Homo sapiens: one gene and its partner. Each later gene encodes a partner of the first gene's protein in a complex. Each region holds a gene or a part of one and is shown on either strand. Other genes may lie near its edges. The genes, in order: ETAA1 and RPA1.

Region 1 (5,525 bases):
TGTTTCCCATGGTAGGATACATGTCTGCATACCACTGTCTGCAGTAAGCAACCCCAATGTTCCTGGGGTCCGAGTCATCTGTCTATAACAGAAAAAGATGAATGAGAGATAAGCTCCGCTTTCAACAGGCTCTTTTTGGAAATAATGGCATTATTAGCATCAGTCTGAGATGCAGAAACAGCAGCGGAACTTTAGGGGGAAATTGCCAGGCTACCAGTTGTCCCTTCCCCAGATTCCCTATAGACTAGGAAAGAGAAAAGCCAGGCAAACTATATAGTCAGCCCTCTGCATGCTCATTTATGGGCCATTCACCCCCTAATGTTTCCAACAAGGGCTAAAGGAAGAGTCAGGATAGGAAAGGAGAGTGGTATGAACAGGAGCAGTGACCCTAAAAACCAGTCATGTGAGGTTCAGATGTACAGGGCCATTACACCTGCCACCACCCAGAAGTGCTATAAAAGTTTTTTTTTTTTTTTTTTTTTTAAAAAAAGGGAGTCACTTAGAGAAAACTATTACGTAAATAATACTATGAGCTGTATAAGAATTTGGCAGAATTACCAGAGACACAAAATGACAAATTATAAAATAAGATTTATACAACTAAACAACACATAAAGGCATTATAGTATTGCTCAATGAAAGACACAATAATTAGTACCATTATGATCAGAGAGAAGCAATCAATTCCAGTGAAGATGGTTAGGTACGAGGTTCAAACAGACTTATTAGGCTGAGTCTAAATGAATGAACAGAATAGGCTAAAAGTACTCTTAAAAAAGCAAGCAGTAAGCAGGGAGGAGCTTAAGCAAGGACAGAGATATCCAAAGCATAGTCAGAACACAGTGAAGCCACTTTTAGTAAAAGATTCTCAGCTCTTTATTTTTGTACATAGAAACTACTTGCATTTATCTAGGTTATTATATATTCCTGGAAAAATAATATAGGTTAGCTAAACTCCAGTACTCCACTGTAGATATGAAAATACCATTTTTGATGTACAGTCTCCAACTTAAAATGGTTGACTTACAATTTTTCAACTCTAACGTGATGCAAAAGTGATATGCGTCCAATAGAAACCATACTTTAAAGTTTGATTCTTTCCCAGGCTAGAGATATGTGGTACAACATTCTCACGATGCTGGGCATCAGCTCAACTGATACTCTACAGTGTGCCGTATTGCCAGATGATGTGCCCAACTCTAGGCTAATATAAGTGATTTGAGCATGTTTAAGGTAGGCTAAGCTAAGCTATGTTGTCTGGTAGATTAAGTGTAGTAAATGCATTTTTAACTTAAGGTATTTTCAACTCATGATGGGTTTATTGGGATGTAACTACACGGTAAGTTGAGGAGTATCTGTATAGCTATAGGGCAGTAACTACCATATTATCACAGCTTTGAGACACTTGATAGTGATAAATGCCACACCATGACAGGTGTTTCATATCTCTAACTTTCTCTAGATCTCCTAAAACCATTTAAGAGGAATAAAGCATCCTCCCTGCCTTACGCCCTCTAGTTGGACTTCTATTACTGGTTTAGCAAATTCCAAATAGGCAAAATGGCAAAAAAAGAAAAAAACAAAACAGTAATAGAGAAGAAAAGATGAGTCAACTAAGTAAATTAATTGAGGGGAAAATTACAGTTACAGAAAAACTGAAAAGAAAAAAGATTCTCATTTTTATATCCTGGAAAGACTAATTCTTTAAAGCAAAATAAGGAACAATGAGCATTATTATCAAACAGTCCTTATTGTGCTTTTAATTACATCTTTTGTTTTATACTAGAAAATAATACTCCCTCAAGTTATTTTATGTACTGATACTTTGAAACAAATAGTATAATTGTTTAGGTGTCCAAATAAATCATTCTAATTGTAGCACAGCATTAACTTGCCTATGACTTTGAAAACAGTATTACTTTTTCTCACCGATACAATAAGGAAGCTGGACCAGATGACATATGAAGTTTCTGCCAGTTCTAAATGTTAATGATGCCACATTACTTTTGTAGACAATCCACTACTTCTTTTCCTCTATGTTAGACTTCTAAAATCAAAGTTTTCCTAAATATGGTGGAAAGTTTCCAAAATGTGTCACATTTTAGAATTATTAAAATTCAAATCCACTTCTAAGAACTGAACATAATTTCCTTACAAATAAAAAGTCCTTTATTTCATATCAACCATGTTCCTAGAAATATGAAAGTATTAATTAAAATCTGGAAGTGTATAAAAACCTTAAGCAACAGTTAATGAAAGTAAAACTACAAAAACAGTCTCTACTAACTTAGAAAGTTGAAGTTTTTTATTAGGAAAAGACATTAGAATAGGAAATAACGTAGATTACCTCTTTTTTGATGATCCTCTGCAATAATAGCATTTAAAAATATAACTACTTTCCTCTGTATAATATCCGTACATAATTGCTAACTTTCCTGAATTTCCAAAACTTTTGTATTTAATGACTTTCAAATACATGTCCAAGGAAATGTTTCATTTACCATTGCAAACATTGATTTATTAAATAAAGTAGAAGTCCAGGCTTTATAAAAGTCAGCATTACATTTCTCACAGAGAAATCAAGAAAAAAAATTTCCTATCAATCACAGATAGTTATCAGCAGTCTTCGTGAAGTCTTCCAACTAATATTTCATTAAAGAAATGAAGTGGGAGCTGCATTTACAGATGAGGCTCGTGCTTTAGCCATTCTCCGAACCAGTGCTTCTTGTCTTTTTCTCTGAATTTCTTCAGGAGAACACTTTCTATTTTTCTCTTCTTCCTCTAAAAATTCAACAAAAGATGAGTTTTACTTTTATAGCCTATAAAGTCATTCAATATGTGCTTTAATTTTTGCTTTTTTTAATCACCCAGATTTGCCATATTAGTTGGCTATTAAATCAAACTAAACTACTGAATATAAAATTCTAAGTACATAATACAGATATAATGCTCCAGTTCAAAAGAAAATCAAGCACTGATGGATCTGTCTCTATTTGATACATTCTTTTCACAGTGTGATAAAATTCAGTTTGATAGAAAACTGACTACCCACCAAATAATTCTTGTGGACAATGACATCTAATTTATATGACCCACGAATAAATATATCTTTAAAAAGGATACATTGGGATTTAAAATGTTATGTAAACTTTAATTGGAAAATAGTCAAAATATAAGGAATTAAATTAGTTATCAATCTCAAACAGTGTATATTTACATAAGATGTTATATTAATATTCACATCTACTTTTCCCTATAGAGCTATAAAATTTTCATTTCATCCACTGAGGAAATATATTTTAGAGTGATAAAATGAAATCTGTCATGTCAAACTGGTTACCTGTGATTCACTGTCAGAAATTATATTTTTATTTGGAGGATGCATTTTGGAGAAACTTTAAAATAATCTCAATTAACTTAGTAAGTTGAGGCTTTGTATTAGAAATCACTTTCTCATTTAAATGATATTTTAAGTTTAAGACTATCACCCTAATACATATTTAAGTATATCATTTATTCTGACATTTAGAAAAAGATACACAATTTATGAGACATTTCTCTTGTTAACTAACAGAGGCATTTTCAAAATATATAATCTGCCTCCCTTTCCTTTCTTGGTATAATCAGAAATGGGAGGGGGTATTCAGGCTAAGAAATACATATTTTAAATAAGTTTCCCAGATGATTTTGATGGCTTTTATTTCCTAAGCTATTTACCTAACAGACTGTAGATATTTTTTCCTAAAGAGAGACACCAGAAGATACTTTCTAATTAGCTTGACTAATTATCTAATACTTTTAGTCTCAAAGCTGAGAAACACAACAAACTCAGACTACACATCCAAAGACTTTACACTGAATTTGACTGTGTGGAAAGAAAACAGGTTAATAATCTGTAACAGCAGAAAACATAACTTCCTAAAGTTGGTCTTACAATTTGCTTGGCAATATTATAGAAAATAATTTCAAATGATAATCAGGTCACACCATGAAAATTTGATTTAGGGACTCATCCATTTTTCCCATCAGTCTTTCCTTTAACTCAATCTATAATAAAAATACACAATGAAGTCTTAAAATATTGTAAAGTACTAAGCAAAAGCTGCTCTTCTTAATCTTGATCTTACAGTGCAAGGGTCAGTAATTTTTTTTTTTCCTGTAAAGAAAGAGTCAGAAAGCAAGAATGTTAACCTTTGAGTATCTTGTTGCAACTGCTCACCTGTACCACTGTAGCAAAAATAGTTATGGATAATGTATAAATAACTGATGAGCTGTATTCAAATAAAACCTGTTTATGGACAATGAAATCTGGATTTCATATAATTTTCAAATGTCATGAAATATTATTCTCCTTTTAATTTTTTTCCAACCATTTAAAATGTAAAAATCATTTTTAGTGTGCTGGCTATACATAAACAAGCTGCAGGCTGGATTTGGACAGATCATAGTTTGCCAACTCCTGCCTGAAATAAATGTGGGAGTTAAGTGAGTTTTGTTTCAGAGATACTTCCCTGGAGAGCAGCTTGCTACATACCAAAGTAAAAGGAAGTAGAAACAATAGAAAACATCAACAAAGTTAATAGTAATTAAGAGATTCAGTACTATCAATAAGTTTAAAGAAAATATTGATAAGGTAAGCTAAAACGCAGATTATCCATAAAAAATGCAGATAGATTGGTAGATAGGAGTTTTGGGAAAACTCAAATACTCCAGGAGGTTTAGTCTTTTATAGAATTATAACTATAGTTGACCCTTGAACAACATGGGCTTGAACTGGCAAGTCCACTCATTTGTAGGTTGTTTTCTGCATCTGACACCCCTGAGACAGCAAGACCAACTCCTACTCTTCTTCCTTCTCGGCCTACTAGACATGAAGATCATGAGGATGAAGACCTTTATGATGATCCACTTTCACTTAATGAATAGTAAATATTATTTTCTCTTCCTTATTTTCTTAATAACACTTTTCCAGCTTATTGTAAGAATACAGTATATAATACATATAAGAGCATACAAAATATGTATTAATTAATTATGTTATCGGAAAGGTTTCTGGTCAACAGCAGGCTATTAGCAGTTAAGTTTTTAGGGGATCAAAAGTTATACACAGACTTTCGACTGCAAATCAGATCAGCGCCTCTAACCCCCACACTGTTCAAGGGTCAACTCTATCTGTAAATAAAGTCATGCTAGGAACATGCTTGATTTAGTTACAATATGCTCACTTTAATACAAATTTAAATACTTAAAATTATTATAGATTGAGAACAATTTTTAATATTTCAAAATATCTAGTTTGGGCTATCATGTAAAGCAAGCTTGTCCAACCCGCAGCCCGCAAGCTACCCGCAGCCCAGGATGGCTTTGAATGCAGCCCAACACAAATTCATAAACTTTTTTACAACATTATGAGATTCTTTTGTGATTTTTTTTTTTTTTTTTTTTAGTTCATCAGCTGTTGTTAGTGTCAGTGTATCTTATGTGTGATCCAAGATAATTCTTCCAATGTGGCCCAGGGAAGCCAA
Region 2 (7,268 bases), on another chromosome or scaffold:
CTAATTACTACGAATGCCTAGAAGGGTGTGGCACATGCCGTGGAAACCCAGTAAATAAATACTGGATAGATGGTGTATTGATATTTTTAGCCAAATTCTATTCTGAAGAAATGTTTTGATGTAGAGGGTATGAAATCACTGAACTAAATTATATTTTCTGAATTTGGACGTTGAGTTTTGCAGATACGTGGTGCGTATAAAAGAACTCACCTGATTCCCTGTTCTTTCCCAGCGCAGGGCAGCTGCTTAGGTTTGGATTAAGGAGGCGGAAGGGTCTTAGTGGTCACCCACTTAACATATCTTGACCAAAAACTGATTCCTGCCCTTTGCACCCGACGAAACTCATTCTTACAGACTTCATTCTAGACTTGCTAGTCCTTCAGACGCATTGAGATCTGGGAGTTGTCTGGGGATTTGGAGGCGATCTATTTGTGATAGGTCCCTTACATCCTGTCTTTCTTCATGTGACTAGTGCCTTGCCATCAGTTTTACCAGTTACAAAAGTTGATTTTCTTTTTCTCACCCATTATCTTGCCCGTTGAGGCAAGAGAAGTGTTTAAGAGGGCGGCCTTCAGAAACAGCAGTGTCTGGATTCGTCACCATTATTACTTTGACCTCGGGGCTGACATCAGCAAACATAGCAGTGAGCTGCTGTGTGCGCAGCCTTCATCCTAGATTGCTTTTGTAGCCTCCAGCCTCAGTCTCTATTTGATCTGCGTATCTCTTGCATATAAAAAGGAAAAGCTTTGCCTCTCATGTTATATGATTTCACTAGTGGCACCTCCAAAATTTAGAGTTATTGTAAAGCTTACTATAAAAAAGCTAAGTAGAATAGTAATAACTCCTTTTCGTTTGCGTTTGTTTTTAAAGGTTCTACTGTTTCTAAGGCTTATGGTGCTTCAAAGACATTTGGAAAAGCTGCAGGTCCCAGCCTGTCACACACTTCTGGGGGAACACAGTCCAAAGTGGTGCCCATTGCCAGCCTCACTCCTTACCAGTCCAAGTGAGTTGTTGCATAGAGTAAGTTCAGAGTGTACTTATGAAATCGGAGAAGCTATTATGGACTCTTGAGTTATTTATGCGTGAACTTCAGGGTCACCACCAAATACCACCAAATAGAATGGGTTTACTCTTTTTTTTTTTTTTTTTTGCTGAGGAGGAAAGGGGTACAAATTGTGGCAAACTTTTAACTCTTGTTGGAAAATATAGTAACAATAGCAATCTGCCATAGCCTGTGGGGTTTCATTCATTTTGAAAGAATTTGAAATTAAAAATACTTAATGCTTAATCAGTTGATAGTCTTATGAGTAAAAATAAATATTTCTGATAATTCAAAAGGCATTTAATCTTCTCCTATAAACAGGTGACTTCGTCTTTGGTTTAGTTGGCTAAAATAATCTGCACTATTTGTATTAAACACATGAACATACCCTGAACATAAATTTCTTTTATATGACTTTTTTCCACCAAAAATTAATTTGAAGCCGGGCGCGGTGGCTCATGCCCGTAATCCCCGCACTTTAGGAGGCTGAGGCGGGTGGATCACCTGAGGTCGGGAGTTTGAGACCAGCCTGGCCAACATGGTGAAACCGTGTCTCTACTAAAAATACAAAAATTAGCCAGGTGTTGTGGAGCACGCCTGTAATCCCCGCTACTCAGGAGGCTGAGGCAGAAGAATCGCTTGAACCCAGGAGGCGGAGGTTGCAGTGAGCCAAGATTGTGCCACTGCCTTCCAGCCTGAGTAACAGAGTGAGATTCCGTCTCTCAAGATAAATAAACAAAATAAAGTAATTTGAATAGTTAAAAATTAGAGTTCTTTTTTCAGAATCCTTCCAGATATGTTTATATTTATTCTTCAATACTCTGTAACGTAGGAAAGATATTTTTCCCTGTGAAATTATAAGTGGGGTACCTAATGTGCCCTGTGCCTCCTTTTTCCATGCTTCTCTCTAAGGTCATGCTGCTTCAGTGTGTTCTTCCTGATGGTCCACCAACATCGTGTATTCTATTCAGGGTGTGTTACGAATGAGACAGAAGTGTAACACCAGTTATATCAGTTCCCATAATTGAAAACTGTGGCAAAATATAATTGCTGGTGTTACTGTATTTTCCAGCTTAGAACCTTTCATTAAGGGGATATGGTTGCCTTGGTGATGCTTTTTGGAGAAGGGAGAGAGTTTATAAATTTACTTATTTGACAGGAGAATGAGTTAGTATTAAATCACTTTGCATGTTTTACTATTTGCTTATTCTGTAAACTGTCAAACCCATGTGTCATCTTGGGGTTTTAATTAGCTGGATTAAAATACAGGTTGGAAAACGGAATATGCGTAAGACGAGAAAGGCTGTAGGAAGATGATTTCTTACTTGATCTTTTCCAAGGAAGACCCCATACACTAATATGATCGATTTGGTTTGTAGGTGGACCATTTGTGCTCGTGTTACCAACAAAAGTCAGATCCGTACCTGGAGCAACTCCCGAGGGGAAGGGAAGCTTTTCTCCCTAGAACTGGTTGACGAAAGTGTGAGTGTTTGTCATGCTGGGGAGTGAGGGCAGTGGGCTCGCCGGGAAACAGAAGGCTCAGCTCTGCGGAGGGCAGTGGGCTCGCTGGGAAACAGAAGGCTCAGCTCTGCGGAGGGCAGTGGGCTCGCCGAGAAACAGAAGGCTCAGCTCTGCGGGCCTATGAGGTGAAGAATAATAGTAGGCCAGAGAGAAGCATGATTGTTATTGTGCTTTTCCCTCTGTCATAGTCTTTTGATGCTGTCTGGAGTAGAGGGTTAAGGTCATAAATAAAATCTTTGATCTTAAATGACAGCGTTTGTAGCAGTAGAAAGTAGTTTTCTAAATATATAAGTAGCCTCCTGGGCAGGAGAAGCTGGAAACAGTCTGATTTGCTGGCAGGTGTACTGGAAGCACTGGGAGGTGATGCCTGCTTGTGAGCGCCGTGGAGCTTTGGGACACAGCAGAAGGCACACAGTTGTGACCTCGATATGGGAGTGGTTTTGTGGGAAATGGGTTCTGACTGTGCAGATTCTCTATTTGCTTTATTTAAACTAAACAAAACCATGACGATGAGACAAAATTCCTATGCCATGGAAGTACGACAGTCTTGATAGCTGTTAATCAGTCCATTCGTTTTGCTAATAATTCCTGAAATTGCCGGGTGTGGTGGCTCACGCCTGTAATCCCAACACTTTGGGAGGCCAGGGTGCACAGATCACTTGAGGTCAGGAGTTCGAGACCAGCCTGGCCAACATAGTGAAACCCCGTTTATACTAAAAATACAAAAATTAGCTGGGTATGGTGGCAGGTGCCTGTAGTCCCAGCTACTTGGGAGGCTGAGGCAGGAGAATCAATCGCCTGAACCAAGGAGGTGGAGGTTGGAGCCAGCCAAGATTGCACCACTGCACTCCAGCCTGGGCGACAGAGTGAGACTCCATCTCAAAAATAATAATAATTCCTAAAATGTACTTCAGCATTCTTTTCAAAGTGCTGCAGATTTCCTGTTTGTTCAGACTCCCAAATAGGGAGAAAAAAATAGATGTTTTTTTTGGAAGTTGATATAACACCCAAAATGTTTGTGTGATGGCAGAATCAATATTAGAACCTAATTTTTTTTTAGAAATTATTGCTCTAATGTATGGTGGTTGGCTAAAATTTCTTGTCCACTTGTAAATTTTGGCTGACAGAAAAGCAAAAGTGAAAATCAGATCACAAGCAACTTGCAAACATGACTTACTCTGACATTTTTGGCAATGGCTCCGAATGTGAAGTGGTTTGTCACTGAGAGGGCACTGTGGAGGGAGCCGGTGAATCACCCCGTGGCAGCACCTTCCTCGTGGGCTCTGGGCGTGTCCCTCAGTATTCAACTTTTTTTGTTTTTATTGTCAGAATAAATTAAACTCGTCATTGCCGTTTTGTTCTGTTCTGTTTCTCAGTTGAGGCTAATGCAGCATGATTATGGGATCGGCTAGCTGAAATTCTCATTCTTCAGCGGGGCCAGTGACTTCAGTGTGTGACTGTAAAATGCGGGTTCCTGGGATGTCCGTAGCCCTCTCTGGACCCTGTTTGTGCAAGGGCCACTGCTCTCAAGATGTCACTTTGGTGCTAGGGTGGCCTGTGTTCTATCCCAGTGTCACTTGGGTGCTGGGGTGGCCTGTGTTCAATCCCGCAGCCCTAACCTGCCCACGTGCTTCTGCAGGGTGAAATCCGAGCTACAGCTTTCAATGAGCAAGTGGACAAGTTCTTTCCTCTTATTGAAGTGAACAAGGTATGGCCGTGCTGACTTTAGAACTGACACCGCCTGGGGGTGGAGTGCGGATGAAAAGACGCTGGCCCAGGGGAGGGGTGTGTGGTGGCAGACTAGGGGTTTCTGTCCGATTTGATGGTAGTCTCAGGTTCTGTGGCTTGGCCTCCTTCGCAGGTGTATTATTTCTCGAAAGGCACCCTGAAGATTGCTAACAAGCAGTTCACAGCTGTTAAAAATGACTACGAGATGACCTTCAATAACGAGACTTCCGTCATGCCCTGTGAGGACGACCATCATTTACCTACGGTTCAGTTTGATTTCACGGGGATTGATGACCTCGAGAACAAGTCGAAAGACTCACTTGTAGGTAAGCTCGTGTATGAGAAGGAAGAGCAGGGATGACTAGCTTTCTTTGCAGTGTACGGGGTGGTGTCAGGCTTCAGTGCTTGCCGTTCATCATTTGCTGGCGTCGGAATGGGAGTCTTGACCACCTCCTGCTAACACGTGCATGTGTTTTAGACATCATCGGGATCTGCAAGAGCTATGAAGACGCCACTAAAATCACAGTGAGGTCTAACAACAGAGAAGTTGCCAAGAGGAATATCTACTTGATGGACACATCCGGGAAGGTGGTGACTGCTACACTGTGGGGGGAAGATGTAAGTGCTGGGATGGGGTCTTCAACACGCACAGGACCTCCTGGGGTTGGGGCGTGGTCTTGTCCTATAGGATGGGGCCTTCAGCACACACAGGAGGAGCTCCTGGAGTTGGGGGAGGGAGTGGTCTTATCCTATAGGATGGGGCCTTCAGCACACACAGGAGGAGCTCCAGGAGTTGGCGGAGGGGGCATCTTGTCCTATAGGATGGGGCCTTCAGCACACACAGGAGGAGCTCCTGGAGTTGAGGGAGGGAGGGGTCTTGTCCTATAGGATGGGGCCTTCAGCACACACAGGAGGAGCTCCTGGAGCTGGCGGAGGGGGCGTCTGTTCCTATAGGATGGGGCCTTCAGCACACACAGGAGGAGCTCCTGGGGTTGGGGGAGGGAGGGGTCTTGTCCTATAGGATGGGGCCTTCAGCACACACAGGAGGAGCTCCTGGGGTTGGCGGAGGGGGCGTCTTGTCCTATAGGATGGGGCTGTTAGCACACACAGGAGGAGCTCCTCGTGGGGGCGGTTTTGTCCTATGAGTTGGGGGCTTTCACCATGTAGATGGGAAGGATTGTGCTGTCTGGTAAGTATTTAAAATCCTTTATCTTACTTCTGTGAGATTTGCTGTGATTCAAGCTTTACGCGGGGAAATGCTCTTTCCCCTAACTCTAGGAAAGCAGTGATAGTTTTGATGTGTCTCTGAGTAGATTCTCATGTGTGAGGTCTGTCTTGTATGGATTCCATGTACGCTGATTACATTCACTCTACTATTGAATGTTTGCCTTGTTTTCTATAAAAATCTTCTGTGTTCTTCCTGCTAGTGACACTTGTATATGTCTGGTGTTTCTTTTACAGGCTGATAAATTTGATGGTTCTAGACAGCCCGTGTTGGCTATCAAAGGAGCCCGAGTCTCTGATTTCGGTGGACGGAGCCTCTCCGTGCTGTCTTCAAGCACTATCATTGCGAATCCTGACATCCCAGAGGCCTATAAGCTTCGTGGATGGTAGGTTTTGTGGGGCTAAACAAAGGGTTACTTGAGGCTGGGCTTTGAGAAAAGCTGGTTACAATCAGCATGGGAGCTTTCTGCCAAGCAGAAGCCTTCGTCCCTGAGTGGTGCAGCTTCCGTGTTTCTTGAAGGCATTATGCCTTCTGTGAGGAGGGCTTTAAAGCCCTTAAACGGACAAACCTGTAATCCCAGGACAAACCTAGAGAGTCGGAGGAGGCAATTAGCATGTAAGTGCTGCCTGCTGACCTCGATCCTGCCAAAGGAGGGGACGGCCAGGCTTCAGCAGCGGTGTGCTGAAGGCGCCTTTCTTTCCAGGGTTTAGGCTCTGGGCCTCTGTGGCGTGGGGGAACACATGCTTTCTTTCTCTGTCAAGTCTTTGGTGCCGATCACATCTTCTAGTGTGTATTCACTAGACTCTGATCAAGTGTGGTGAGAACAATGGGCTTTTTGTTAGGATTAGATTGTTATTCCCAAAGCACTCAAGGGATGAGGAGAGCCTGTTAAAATCTCCTCACTGTATCTAGCTTTTTAGGACATTCAAACTCTGTCTTAAAAGAGTACTTCAAACTGAGACACAGGATGCAAGAATTGATGTGGTCAGGGAAAACACTTTCACCCAAGCTTCAATAATTCCCATAGCTGTAGTCTATGGGGGGGAAGTGTGTCAGTTTCCAGCTGTGTCTTAGGATTTAAGCAGCTAAAGAATGAGCTCATTTTACATACTCCTCCTTTGTTTTGAGTCATTTAAACCAATGGCACTGGTGTTTGACCAGTTTCATGAAGCATCTTCTGGAATGTTCATGTCACTGAGCCATCCTCATGAGTAGTACGGTCCACACGTATCTGCCGAACTGCAGGGCCCGTTCATAGTCTGACCAGAACTAGCCACAGATTTGCTTTTTTCTTATTGCTTGATTTTCTTTTAGGCTCTGGAGTTCGACTCCAGGTTAATTGCATTCCCACATTAAAATCGCATTCCCACATTAAAATTGCATTCCCACATTAATGTCTTCATCTTTTACTTGTCAATAATCATGATCCCAGTCAACATAAAAAGCACGGCTGTCCCCAGAATAAAATAACTTGGCATTGATCAAAGACAAGCTCAGTGCATACATGATACCTGGACAAGGATTAGAGATGTTTAGATCTTGGCTATAACAATGCAGAGTTTTTATTGTAAGAAGGGCCGCCTTGACTCCTGACGAGTGATCTTTGGTGGCAAATGTCTCCTTGGAGCTTTTGAAACCGTGAACTTGTGTAGCTAGTAGTGGTGAAACAGATGGATGGGCCTTGCTGTGCCCCTGTGAGGGATTTAGCCGCTTACCTGACAGGAGAAGGCAGCTGTCTGCAGCTCAGGGTAA

Evidence for each region.
Region 2: the proteins of ETAA1 (region 1) and RPA1 are in contact, whole or in part, in a crystal structure (PDB 8JZV), measured with the Homo sapiens proteins. Residues at the interface, in NP_061875.2 of Homo sapiens: Thr599, Trp600, Glu601, Ala602, Asp606, Asp607, Leu609, Leu610, Tyr611, Ala613, Cys614, Asp615; in NP_002936.1 of Homo sapiens: Arg31, Ile33, Thr34, Pro39, Arg41, Arg43, Ser54, Ser55, Met57, Asn85, Leu87, Arg91, Arg92, Val93, Ile95.

The regions. Positions count from the first base shown.
Region 1 is NC_000002.12:67,407,167-67,412,691, reverse strand, and holds the end of ETAA1 (ewing's tumor-associated antigen 1), read right to left. Parts: intron 2,782-5,525; coding exon 2,654-2,781; 3' UTR 603-2,653; downstream 1-602. UniProt on the Homo sapiens protein: Replication stress response protein that accumulates at DNA damage sites and promotes replication fork progression and integrity.
Region 2 is NC_000017.11:1,874,791-1,882,058, forward strand, and holds part of RPA1 (replication protein A 70 kDa DNA-binding subunit), read left to right. Parts: intron 1-870; coding exon 871-1,003; intron 1,004-2,421; coding exon 2,422-2,524; intron 2,525-4,202; coding exon 4,203-4,271; intron 4,272-4,424; coding exon 4,425-4,617; intron 4,618-4,769; coding exon 4,770-4,909; intron 4,910-5,752; coding exon 5,753-5,901; intron 5,902-7,268. UniProt on the Homo sapiens protein: As part of the heterotrimeric replication protein A complex (RPA/RP-A), binds and stabilizes single-stranded DNA intermediates that form during DNA replication or upon DNA stress.